Homo sapiens: one gene and its partners. The protein of the gene in region 2 purifies or fractionates together with the protein of the main gene of each other region. This does not show direct contact. Each region holds a gene or a part of one and is shown on either strand. Other genes may lie near its edges. The genes, in order: ARID2, FLI1 and ARID1B.

Evidence for each region.
Region 1: the proteins of FLI1 (region 2) and ARID2 purify together in Homo sapiens (affinity purification with mass spectrometry, with the first as the bait; one large-scale study listed by BioGRID). This does not show direct contact.
Region 3: the proteins of FLI1 (region 2) and ARID1B purify together in Homo sapiens (affinity purification with mass spectrometry, with the first as the bait; one large-scale study listed by BioGRID). This does not show direct contact.

What each region holds. Positions count from the first base shown.
Region 1 is NC_000012.12:45,848,107-45,851,759, forward strand, and holds part of ARID2 (AT-rich interactive domain-containing protein 2), read left to right. Parts: intron 1-729; coding exon 730-864; intron 865-1,451; exon of another isoform or gene 1,452-1,473; coding exon 1,474-1,670; intron 1,671-1,929; coding exon 1,930-3,653. UniProt on the Homo sapiens protein: Involved in transcriptional activation and repression of select genes by chromatin remodeling (alteration of DNA-nucleosome topology). Required for the stability of the SWI/SNF chromatin remodeling complex SWI/SNF-B (PBAF).
Region 2 is NC_000011.10:128,767,045-128,770,697, reverse strand, and holds part of FLI1 (Friend leukemia integration 1 transcription factor), read right to left. Parts: intron 2,581-3,653; coding exon 2,426-2,580; intron 1-2,425. UniProt on the Homo sapiens protein: Sequence-specific transcriptional activator. Recognizes the DNA sequence 5'-C[CA]GGAAGT-3'.
Region 3 is NC_000006.12:157,207,378-157,211,432, reverse strand, and holds the end of ARID1B (AT-rich interactive domain-containing protein 1B), read right to left. Parts: coding exon 3,542-4,055; 3' UTR 654-3,541; downstream 1-653. UniProt on the Homo sapiens protein: Involved in transcriptional activation and repression of select genes by chromatin remodeling (alteration of DNA-nucleosome topology).

The DNA of each region.
Region 1 (3,653 bases), on a different chromosome or scaffold from region 2:
TTTTTTTTAAATCATAATTACTATTTGATTTAGTTTTTCAGAAAAACTAAGTTTAGCCTATTATACATAGTGAGTTATGGAAAGAGCCTATCAGGGTAATCAGGCCTCCAATCCCAATTTATAGGTAAAGGTCATTTTAAGAAAAAGACAAAATGAGGTTTGAATTAGTTTGTAATGGATTACAAATTAAAACTGTTTTGAAATGGGGAAATGGGAGTGTGCAGCATGGAAAGTGTCATTGTTTTAGGAAGTAGCTGAAAAGCTTGGATAAGTTTTTTCTGAAGGAATTTGATCCAAGAGCCAAGGAAAGTTTAACCTTAGTTCAGTTTCCCCCCATTTTCTTCAGCTACAATGCAAATAGCACGTAATTGGGAACTTGTTTTATGTTATGATTATTACAAGACAGGATGCCGAATAGATATTCACTAAATAAAACTATTTCTTATAGAACATTTGTTGTCAGCAGACCAACCCTGCTCTCATTGGGATGTGAACATAGTTTTTATATTTGTTGTCAGTGTCATTTTTAATACTAAAATAAGCATGTTAATCTATTGATTTAATCTAAAATTTAGCATATATTTTTGCTACTAACGTATGAGTCAGTGAAATTTGATTAGTAGGTATAATTATTAGTTTTAACACATTGCCTCCACATGGCTTTAGTATATTTAAATATGGAGTTTCCTAGAGTATATTGTATAATGCTTAATTTTTCTCCTCTTTTAGGCTAAATGCTCATTTTGAAGTAAATCCAGATTGTTCTGTTTCTCGAGCAGAAATGTATTCTGAATACCTCTCGACTTGCAGTAAATTAGCTCGTGGTGGAATCCTAACATCAACTGGATTTTATAAATGTCTTAGGTAGGATCCATAGTTCTTTAAATAAAGTCCATTTACGTCACTTACAACATCTCTTGCTCTTTAAAGAAAATACCAAATATCTTATCTAGTTTTAAATATTTCTACTACTAGAAGTTTCGTATGGATAGGTTATAGTGTGGTGGAGGTTTAAATAAAAAGCAGTTTCAGAAATCACATCTAGTGTTTGTGTTGGAACATTATGAGATTTATCAAAGAAATGAAGTTTACTTTCTTTTTCCTACCTACTTTTACATGTTAAAGACATGACTGTATCTTTTTAATCTTGAATAATAGAATATAATATTATTATCTTCAAATACAAAGACTTTTTGATATTTTGCAAAGTACATAAAAATAGGTATCTTTTATTAGTTATATGTGGGTGGAATTGTTTAAAACCCAGCGACATTGTTAATAAATAATGATGTTTTAAATGGGATGATTAATCTTTTATATTTCTTTGCTTTCCATCCTTGCAGAATATAACTGTGAGTCATACTGGTTCATACATAAGCAACAGTAAACATACTGCTGTTGTTCATGTAAACATAATGTTAGAAGTCAATGTGATAGTTATCAAAACTTACTGATTATGTATGTACTTTACAGAACGGTCTTTCCAAATCATACAGTGAAGAGAGTGGAGGATTCCAGTAGCAATGGGCAGGCACATATTCATGTGGTAGGAGTAAAACGGAGGGCTATACCACTTCCCATTCAGATGTACTATCAGCAGCAACCAGTTTCTACTTCTGTTGTTCGTGTTGATTCTGTTCCTGATGTATCTCCTGCTCCTTCACCTGCAGGTGTTAATTTTTATTGTATTTTTAAAGTATTACTGATTTAATAATAAAACTGAATGAAAAATATATATTCTATGCATTTTAAATGTATAACTTTTGTGTCTCCAGTAGCATTTTCTTACTTGGTCTATTACCATATTCATATGATTCAAAATTGTTAGATGTTAATTTCTTAAAACTATTTTCTCTTAAGTAAAATAATTCCTACTTGGGATTTTCAGTCATTTCATTTGGAATTTTGACGTTTTCTTCATATTTTCAGGAATCCCTCATGGATCACAAACCATAGGAAACCATTTTCAGAGGACTCCTGTTGCCAACCAATCTTCAAATCTGACTGCAACACAAATGTCTTTTCCTGTACAAGGTGTTCATACTGTGGCACAAACTGTTTCAAGAATTCCACAAAATCCTTCACCTCATACCCACCAGCAACAAAATGCTCCAGTGACTGTCATTCAAAGTAAAGCTCCAATTCCTTGTGAAGTTGTTAAGGCTACAGTTATCCAGAATTCCATACCCCAGACAGGAGTTCCTGTTAGTATTGCTGTTGGAGGAGGACCTCCACAGAGTTCTGTTGTTCAGAATCATAGTACAGGGCCACAACCTGTTACAGTTGTGAATTCTCAGACATTGCTTCACCATCCATCTGTAATTCCACAGCAGTCTCCATTACACACAGTGGTACCAGGACAGATCCCTTCAGGCACTCCTGTTACAGTAATTCAACAAGCTGTCCCACAGAGTCATATGTTTGGCAGAGTACAGAACATACCAGCATGTACTTCTACAGTTTCACAGGGTCAACAGTTAATCACCACATCACCCCAACCTGTGCAAACTTCATCTCAACAGACATCAGCTGGTAGCCAGTCACAAGATACTGTTATCATAGCACCCCCACAGTATGTAACAACTTCTGCATCCAATATTGTCTCAGCAACTTCAGTACAGAATTTTCAGGTAGCTACAGGACAAATGGTTACTATTGCTGGTGTCCCAAGTCCACAAGCCTCAAGGGTAGGGTTTCAGAACATTGCACCAAAACCTCTCCCTTCTCAGCAAGTTTCATCTACAGTGGTACAGCAGCCTATTCAACAACCACAGCAGCCAACCCAACAAAGCGTAGTGATTGTAAGCCAGCCAGCTCAACAAGGTCAAACTTATGCACCAGCCATTCACCAAATTGTTCTTGCTAATCCAGCAGCTCTTCCAGCTGGTCAGACAGTTCAGCTAACTGGACAACCTAACATAACTCCATCTTCTTCACCATCACCTGTCCCAGCTACTAATAACCAAGTCCCTACTGCCATGTCGTCGTCCTCTACCCCTCAATCACAGGGACCACCTCCTACTGTCAGTCAAATGTTATCTGTGAAAAGGCAGCAACAGCAGCAACATTCACCAGCACCCCCACCACAGCAGGTACAAGTACAAGTTCAGCAGCCCCAACAAGTACAGATGCAAGTTCAACCTCAACAGTCGAATGCAGGAGTTGGTCAGCCTGCCTCTGGTGAGTCGAGTCTGATTAAACAGCTTCTGCTTCCGAAACGTGGTCCTTCAACACCAGGTGGTAAGCTTATTCTCCCAGCTCCACAGATTCCTCCCCCTAATAATGCAAGAGCTCCTAGCCCTCAGGTGGTCTATCAGGTGGCCAGTAACCAAGCCGCAGGTTTTGGAGTGCAGGGGCAAACTCCAGCTCAGCAGCTATTGGTTGGGCAGCAAAATGTTCAGTTGGTCCCAAGTGCAATGCCACCCTCAGGGGGAGTACAAACTGTGCCCATTTCGAACTTACAAATATTGCCAGGTCCACTGATCTCAAATAGCCCAGCAACCATTTTCCAAGGGACTTCTGGCAACCAGGTAACCATAACAGTTGTGCCAAATACGAGTTTTGCACCTGCAACTGTGAGTCAGGGAAATGCAACTCAGCTCATTGCTCCAGCAGGAATTACCATGAGCGGAACGCAGACAGGAGTTGGACTT
Region 2 (3,653 bases):
TCCAAGGCCTCAAATTCAATTTTACACCATATATTTTATTTATTTTATTATTTCCTCCCTTGCTTTGGGCTCTGCAACAATATTATTACTCTCCCTCTACAGCACAATGAATTATAAATCTTCAACTCTGGATCATGCTAAACTCTTCCAAATGCATTTCCTGGATGATTTAGTCCTAGTTTCTTCCCATCTGAACATGGAGCTAGTGATTAACTAGGGCCCACATTTATACTTGTCTTTAAATCCCATCATAAATTCAATCGGTTATTCCACTAATATTTTATTGCCTTGATTTGTGGACTTGCCCAAATGAGACTTCCCCTCATATCCACAGCCTGGCCTGGAGGAAGCCAAAATGTGTGAGGACCTAAAAGATCTAGCCGGAGCTAAAATAATGAAGTAAATCCATAGCCTGAAAGTGCTTTGAAAATCATTTGACATGAATTTGTTTTATTTTCACCACCAGCGCTATAGGTAACTTGGCTCAGCCAAGCCTGATGTTTTGCTATTCCTTTTGAAAGCATTTCAACACTGATCAAAGAAAGTTTGGAGGGTCGACATAGCAGTCTGGCCACTTCTGCCCATTTCCAAGATTCCTTCCCCAAAATGACGACCAAAATGAGATGGTGCCAAAGGTTGGTTCAAAGACAATCTCAGATCCCCAAACCCTTCAGTCCAGCAAGCTTTCCCTCCCAGGCTGGGAGCTGTTTGACTGAAGCAGGGGAGTTTGAAACCATTTGAGTGAAGACCCAGTGAGGCTCAGCTTTGCTTTGGGCTGTACAAAGAGATTCCCACCTGTCAGTTCTAATACAGTTTCATTGTCTGCTTTCAGTGAGGAGGGAGACGATACACCTGGGCTAAACATTACTAGCTGGTCTCCTGTGACAGGTGTTTTAAGTAATGCCATGGAGATAAAGCAATTTACGTGGTGCCTGGCACCTAGAAAGCACTCAATAAATGGAAGTGATTCTTCCTCTTCCTTTGTTAGGTCAGATGCTTGTGGAAGAGCAAACTTAGAATTGCTTTAGGAGTCATTTCTAAGTCCTAAAGGGTACAGAGAAATTTCTACAAGCCCCACCCGTCTGCTGCCTCACTCTTGCTCACACCTTCTTGAATTTGGCCCAGAGCACAGGGAGGCAGCTGTAATCCAGGGATATGGTGAGATGCAGCTTCCCAGGGAAAACAAACACCACGGGCCAAGGCAGGAGGCAGCCCTTAACATTTCTGCCTTTAGACCTACAAGCAGATGCCTTCGGACTACCTCAAAGAGATGTCTAACCTTTTGACTTCAGAGGCAACTACATTTATGCTTTTACAAATGGAAGGAGTTTTGCCTCTCTGGTAAAGTTATTTTGGTAAGATCAGGTTTAATCCCTGCCCTGTAATCACTTTGCTTAAGATTTGGACATCCTTGCCCCTTCTACCTGGCACCAGTTCTACACGTGGCAGTTTGTAAACACCCTTCTTGTGCAGGCAGCTGAGCTTGCTGGTGCTAGCTGGGGTGGAGTGTCCAGCCAATGGACTGAAGGACTGAACGATGATTTTATTTTCTGGGACCAACAGCACCAACACCTAGGAAAAAGAGGCTATTTTTACCTAATGACATAACTTGTGGCACACATGTTAAGGCACTCCATTAGTTAAATATAGTTCTTTCTATTTTAAAACTGAAAGAGCTGGCTGTAATTTTGGAAAGGTGGAACCTGGTAGATGCCGGGAAGTACGAGCCTGGAGGGAAGGACTGGCCTCTGCAGCTGACCTCCTCCTCACAGGCAGGGATGCCCACATCCAGAGCTCACGGGATTCCTTTTGGGTGGAGGCGGCCTTGCCTCTGCTCTCTGAGCAGCCCGTCCTTGAGGACCAGGCCATTGATGTAGAGTCTGTGATGTGGTCTGTTTAAGGGTGGGGCTTCTAGCACCCACACATCAGGTGACATCTGGGATACTGCCTTAAAGGGCAGCTAGGAAGTCAGGTAAAATGTGCAGCTTTTTTTTTTTTTTTTTTTTTTTGAGACAGAGTCTCATTCCATCACCCAGGCTGGAGTGCAGTGGTGTGATCTTGGCTCCCTGCAACCTCCGCCTTCCCGGTTAAAGCGAGTCTCCTGCTTCAGCCCCCTGAGTAGCTGGGAATATAAGCGTCCACTACCACACCTGGCTAATTTTTGTATTTTTTTTTTTTTTTAGTAGAGATGAGGTTTCACCACGTTGGCTAGGCTGGTCTTGAACTCCTGACAAGTGATTCACCCGTCTTGGCCTCTCAAAGTGCTGGGATTACAGGCGCGAGCCACCACTCCCGGCTGGCGTGCAGCTTTCTCCATTTTGCAATTCCACAGGGAATAGAGTATCAGATAAAGGTTTAGATGCTCCCTGCCCCCCCAGAGAGTGGGGAAGTGAATGGCGCCCAGGCAGCCTGGTTCTCGAATTACCTGCGGGGACGATGACTCTCCTCTCGTTGGTGGTCATGTTGGGAGGAGGGGGGCCATTCTTCTCGTCCATATAGCTGTTGTAGTTCATGGGGTTGGACTCGCCTCCGCCCACCAGCTTGCTGCATTTGCTAACGCTGCAGTCCACCGGAGACTCCCTAAAGTGAGAAGAGACAAAGCCCAGAGGCGGTCAGCACTGACAGGGCAGCTTGCCTCAGCCTCTGAATCATGAGCCCAGGGCTCCGATGATGAGCATGGAGCCATTGCCCGGCCACACTTGGTGTCATGATGATGATGATGCCCTCTTTCTATCCTCCATGCTGCCACCAGAGTTTTCTTCAAATCCCAGCCCAATCCTATAATTACAGTACGTAAAAACTGCTGGCAGCGCCTCAGTGCCCTCAGACCAAGGTCTGAGCTTCTTTGTGTGGCATCGCAGCCCTCCCTGTCTGACTGCAGCTTACATTTTTAGCCTCACTGCCAGGCAACCTAGTCCATGCTCCCAGACACGCCTTCCCCACAGTCCCCCAGCACTTGGTGCCCGCCTTGGTTATAAGGACTTGTCACACTGTCTGATTCTCAGCTTGGCCTGCGCCCCCTGACTGCTGAGTTCTTGAGAGGATAGTCATCACTTTCTTTGTTTAACCCTAGTATTCTTACAGGAGGTGAGCAGCAAATGCTTTCTCAGTGAGTTATTTCTATTGCACATATATAAGTTTAATGCATTTCTTATGCACTGTTGTATTCGAATTTCCCAATAAGCCCCCAGGATAGGCACAGCAAGGGTTACTATCTCCTTTTCATGGTTAATGAAATCGAGACAGGGGCTGCCTGGCTCAGTCACACAGCTAGTCAAGGTGGAAACAGGACTCAGGTCTTCTGTGTTAAGCTTCACTATCAAGCACACATGCAAAAGAGCTGGTTGCTACTTGGAGAAGGAATGGAGTCCAGGAACTTCCACCTGATGGAGAGGTGGTGGCCCTGTGGCATTTTGCATCCCTGGCCCCAAGCTCACTGTGGAAGCAGTATGGACATTCACAAGAGAGAAAGCAGATCATCCAACTTAGCCTAGAACTACAGAACTTGATCAGCACCTGGTATTTTGCAGCACTGGTGATGGGCAGCTGTCTGGAGGGGTGAAGTCCCACCCATGGCCACCTGGCGCCCTGAAGCTGGCTGGCAAACACACTCTGCATGCCCTCCAGCCCAGCATCACGCACCTCCAGCATAC
Region 3 (4,055 bases), on a different chromosome or scaffold from region 2:
CCTCAGAGCCTAGAACAGAGCCAGGCACATAGCATGTGCTCAACACATCTCTGTTAAATTCATGAGTAATGTTGCCTGTTCGCAGATTAAATGCTGCTACCAAGTGTATTCATCAGAGTTTTTAACAATCTTGCCTGACCATGAAGTTTACTTCCAAGTTCTTCTAGGCTGGTGCTGAGCAGGACTTCAGGCAGCTGGGCCACGGCCCTCGAAATAAAGAAGTGAACCAACACTCAGCAAGAAGAACAGGGACTGTTTGCACTGTCCATTTGTGGCTCATTTATAATACTTTCTTTGCTTCCTCAAAGGTGAACAGACATGGGAACAGGTACATGTGGTTTGATAGGAAATGAAAGATTTCCAACAGTTTTAAATGGATGGACTTCAGGGCAAAGGCTGGCTTCTTTTCATAAAGGAGGTAGTTAATAGCTTACATTGTATGAGACTGCCCATATGCCCTTAAAAAAATCATTCTTCATTATAACTCTGAAAAAACAGCTTAACTAGTCTTTGAACAGGCCACCTTCATCAGTAAAACATGCTTCTATATCATTCTCTTCCTCGAACAAAACACTGTGAATAGCTATTGCTGAGCAGACGCCGCCCAGTATCTCTTATGTGACATTAAAAAAATCCACTCAAATACCAACAGATTCAACTTTATAGCACCATTCCAAAATACTAAACTTTCTTTGCACCTTTATTTTTTATCTTTTTTTTTTTTTTGGTACACATGTAAAGTCTGGGCATCCTGTAAATTTCTGAAAAGCCTCATAGAAAAAAAAAAACCGACTAATTTTTAGGACAAAGCAATAACTCAGTTTATAGGCAAGATGATCTCAAGCAGGCTGTAAATTCTTCGTGGGCTTCTGTAAATCTTGATTCGGGGGTGAGAATATGGAAAGGAGGCTAAAGTCTTCCTGGATTAGTCTCTAGAGACTGTGTTGCGCATCAGGATAGAAAAACTTGTTGCCCAACGGTCAGACTCTGCGTATCGGTTACAATGCAAACCATAACAACAGTCTTTTGTTAATTATTTTACTCTTCTGATTGACAAAGGAATTGGAATACTGGATATGTTCGGAGTTTGTATACACCTTTTATTTGTACTCTGTAAGAGAGAAATTAGAATAATATTGAATTCCCTCTTACAAATCTCCATATTTGAAGCTTGGAGCACTGAAATCTGTTCTTAGCAAGCAGATGTATTTAAAGCAGAATTATAAATGGGTCTTTAATTCAACATATATTTGGTTGCATTGTTATGTAAGAAGACTGTTTGACTCAGTAATGTGGGAGTTGACAGATGAGAGACTGTTTGCAGAAAAGATGATTTTTTTCCTCGTGACACTGGAGAGTCACGTCTCACAATGACTGTAACTGCATGTTCTTGTCTAACTCTTCCATATATTACTGTGAGTAATGTGAACCGACACAATGTATGCGAGGGGCTGGGGATTCTGAGTATACTGTGATTGGGAGAGGGAAGAGAAGAGGTAGAGGTCCACTAACAGCATAATTATGCAGCAGTTTCAAAGAAATCGATTATTACACAGTAACAGTCAATGACCCAGGAAGAGAAAGTTTAAATTAGAAGTGACTAGTATTAAAAAGCTACTGTGCACCAGGTAGGAAGGAATATGAGAACCATAATATGCCCTGAAATAGAAATCATCACTTTGCACTATGTACACCACATACAATATAACAGATTCTTTTTTAACATTGCACAGTATAAATATTATACACGGTGGAGTAAACTAAATGCAAAATAACTCTGAGGCACACAGAAGAAACAAGGAATAGATTGAACTTTGATTAAACTAAGATGGAGTTAGTAAAAGGCAGAATGTTACATTTTCAGGCCAGTTAAGCTTCTGAGATCTCACCTCAAGTGGGTCAGCAGCCACCTCCCATAAATACTGAAAATGATCATACCTCAATGTCGTTAGAGTTAATTGCTTCAAAGAAAGACTAATTAGCTAAGTAATTTGAGAAAATCAAACTGTTGCTCCCCACTCTAAAGTAGGTAACCCCTAAAGGTCTCTTCCAAATGTAGGGTTTTATAATGTGAATACACTGCTGCATTCCCCTATTTCTTGTAAATAACTTGATTACTAGGAAACCACTTTAAGGAAACTAGAACAGTATTCAAGAACACCCATCACAGTGCTTAACAAGATTTAATGTACATTTATTCTTAACATGTGGAACATATAAAGATTTTATACTGAATAAATGATATTCATTAAGCCAGAGGAAAAGGAGGAATTTACATCAAGTTTTTTTCTTTTTTTTTTTTTTAAACTACATTATCTTGAAATACAAATGTGGATTCTCATCACTGAAAAATCTTTGAAGTTGTGTTTCTTCCTTTTAGTTGTATTTTTTTCATTTTCTCTTTTTTGACTGTACTGGTAACCATTTTCTAAATCAATCCATATATAACCATTTCCACACCTTGATTCATGAAGCAAATTGTGATCAGCTGCTCTCCTGAAATCGAGCATGACTTTATACATACAGAAACTTGTACATTACCCTCTTTTTTTTTTGTTTTTGTTTTTTGTATTTTTTCTTTCTTTTTTTGGAGATATGGCCCTAATGAAAAAATATATAAAATAAAAATAAAAAATTATTTAAATCTACCATCACTTCGTAGTTACCACATCATGAAAAAGAAACTAAAACTTTGTACTAAAAAAAAAAAAAAAAAAGAAAAGAAAAAAATGAGGGTATGTTTAATGTACAACTTCTATATACATCACAGCCCATAGGCAGTAAAAAAAATATTTAAAAAATGATGAAAGGAATTGTGAAGAACTGTCACGTGGAAGGTCAAACGCCGACAGCAGGCATGACGGGAGTGGTGAGGAGCAGTTTCCGGATCGTTGTCAGGTATGTATTCTCAATCTTAAAAAACATTGTTTTTGCTCCCAGCCTAATGGAACCATATTCCTGTGGAGAAACCAGTATCATTTCATAGTTTTGACTACTGACCGACATACCTCCTTGAGCCCCTATACCTGTATCTGTAGAAATTTCTATTGCACAGAACTTTGGGTGATGGGATGCAGTTTTTTTCATTCTCTGAGGAGTAAAACGCATAGGAAATGGATAATTTTTCACCTTTTTGACTCAGTGTGGTGAAATTTTCGCATCTTAGCATCTTTTGCCACAACTTTTTTCTTTAAAGTCAATTTGCTTCCCCCAAAAATGCAATACAACATGGGAAAGAACATTAAAAAGATCTGTGAAGAACAAAAAGTGACCTTTGAATGCACTAGACAGCAACTTTGGTTAAAAAAAAGAGAAAAAAAAAACCCCAAAGGATGTACTTATACACACAGACAGCAAATATTAATTTCATAACTGTTCAAATTAATTATTTCTTTAATTCCCAATTGGTAAATAGTGAATGGGGCAGAGGAGCAAAGATTTTCTTTTCCTTCTTCCTACGCTGGATAAACAAGAACAGAAAACAGCCAGTTATATGTGACCCTCTAATCTTCACTCACACATGCTTGCCTTCTCACTTATGTCATAACTGCCCAATCTGAAACAGTACATCACAGATGACAGATGCAACCAGAGAGTTCAGGACAGCTGATATCGAGATATCCAGCAACCGGCCCTCGTGCAAAAGGAATTCCGAGCGGTTTTCGTCCACTCTGGCCATGGCTAGCAAAGCCTTGGCCGCCCTGCACATCATGTCTACGCTAGGTGGTTCCAGGGGCGGGGGCTGCATGTGCATGAGGTTGTGCTGGCTCTGCTGGTACTGGGCCATCGTGACCCCATCCTCTAGGAAGCTTATCAAGTTTCCAATGCTTCCTTTCTGCACAGCTATGGCCCTTGCTGCTAGTGCGTCCCCTTGGGCAAGGTTCGATAAAAGCGCCATGGACATTTCTCGACAGACTGGGTTTTTGCGATCCCCAACGTACCTAACTAATGTAGCATAGAATTTCTCCTGACGACTAAATGGAGGAGTGGCCAAGATCAGGTCCACATTATTGTCCTGGATACTGAGTTTACAGAGGGTCTCCAGCACAAGTCTC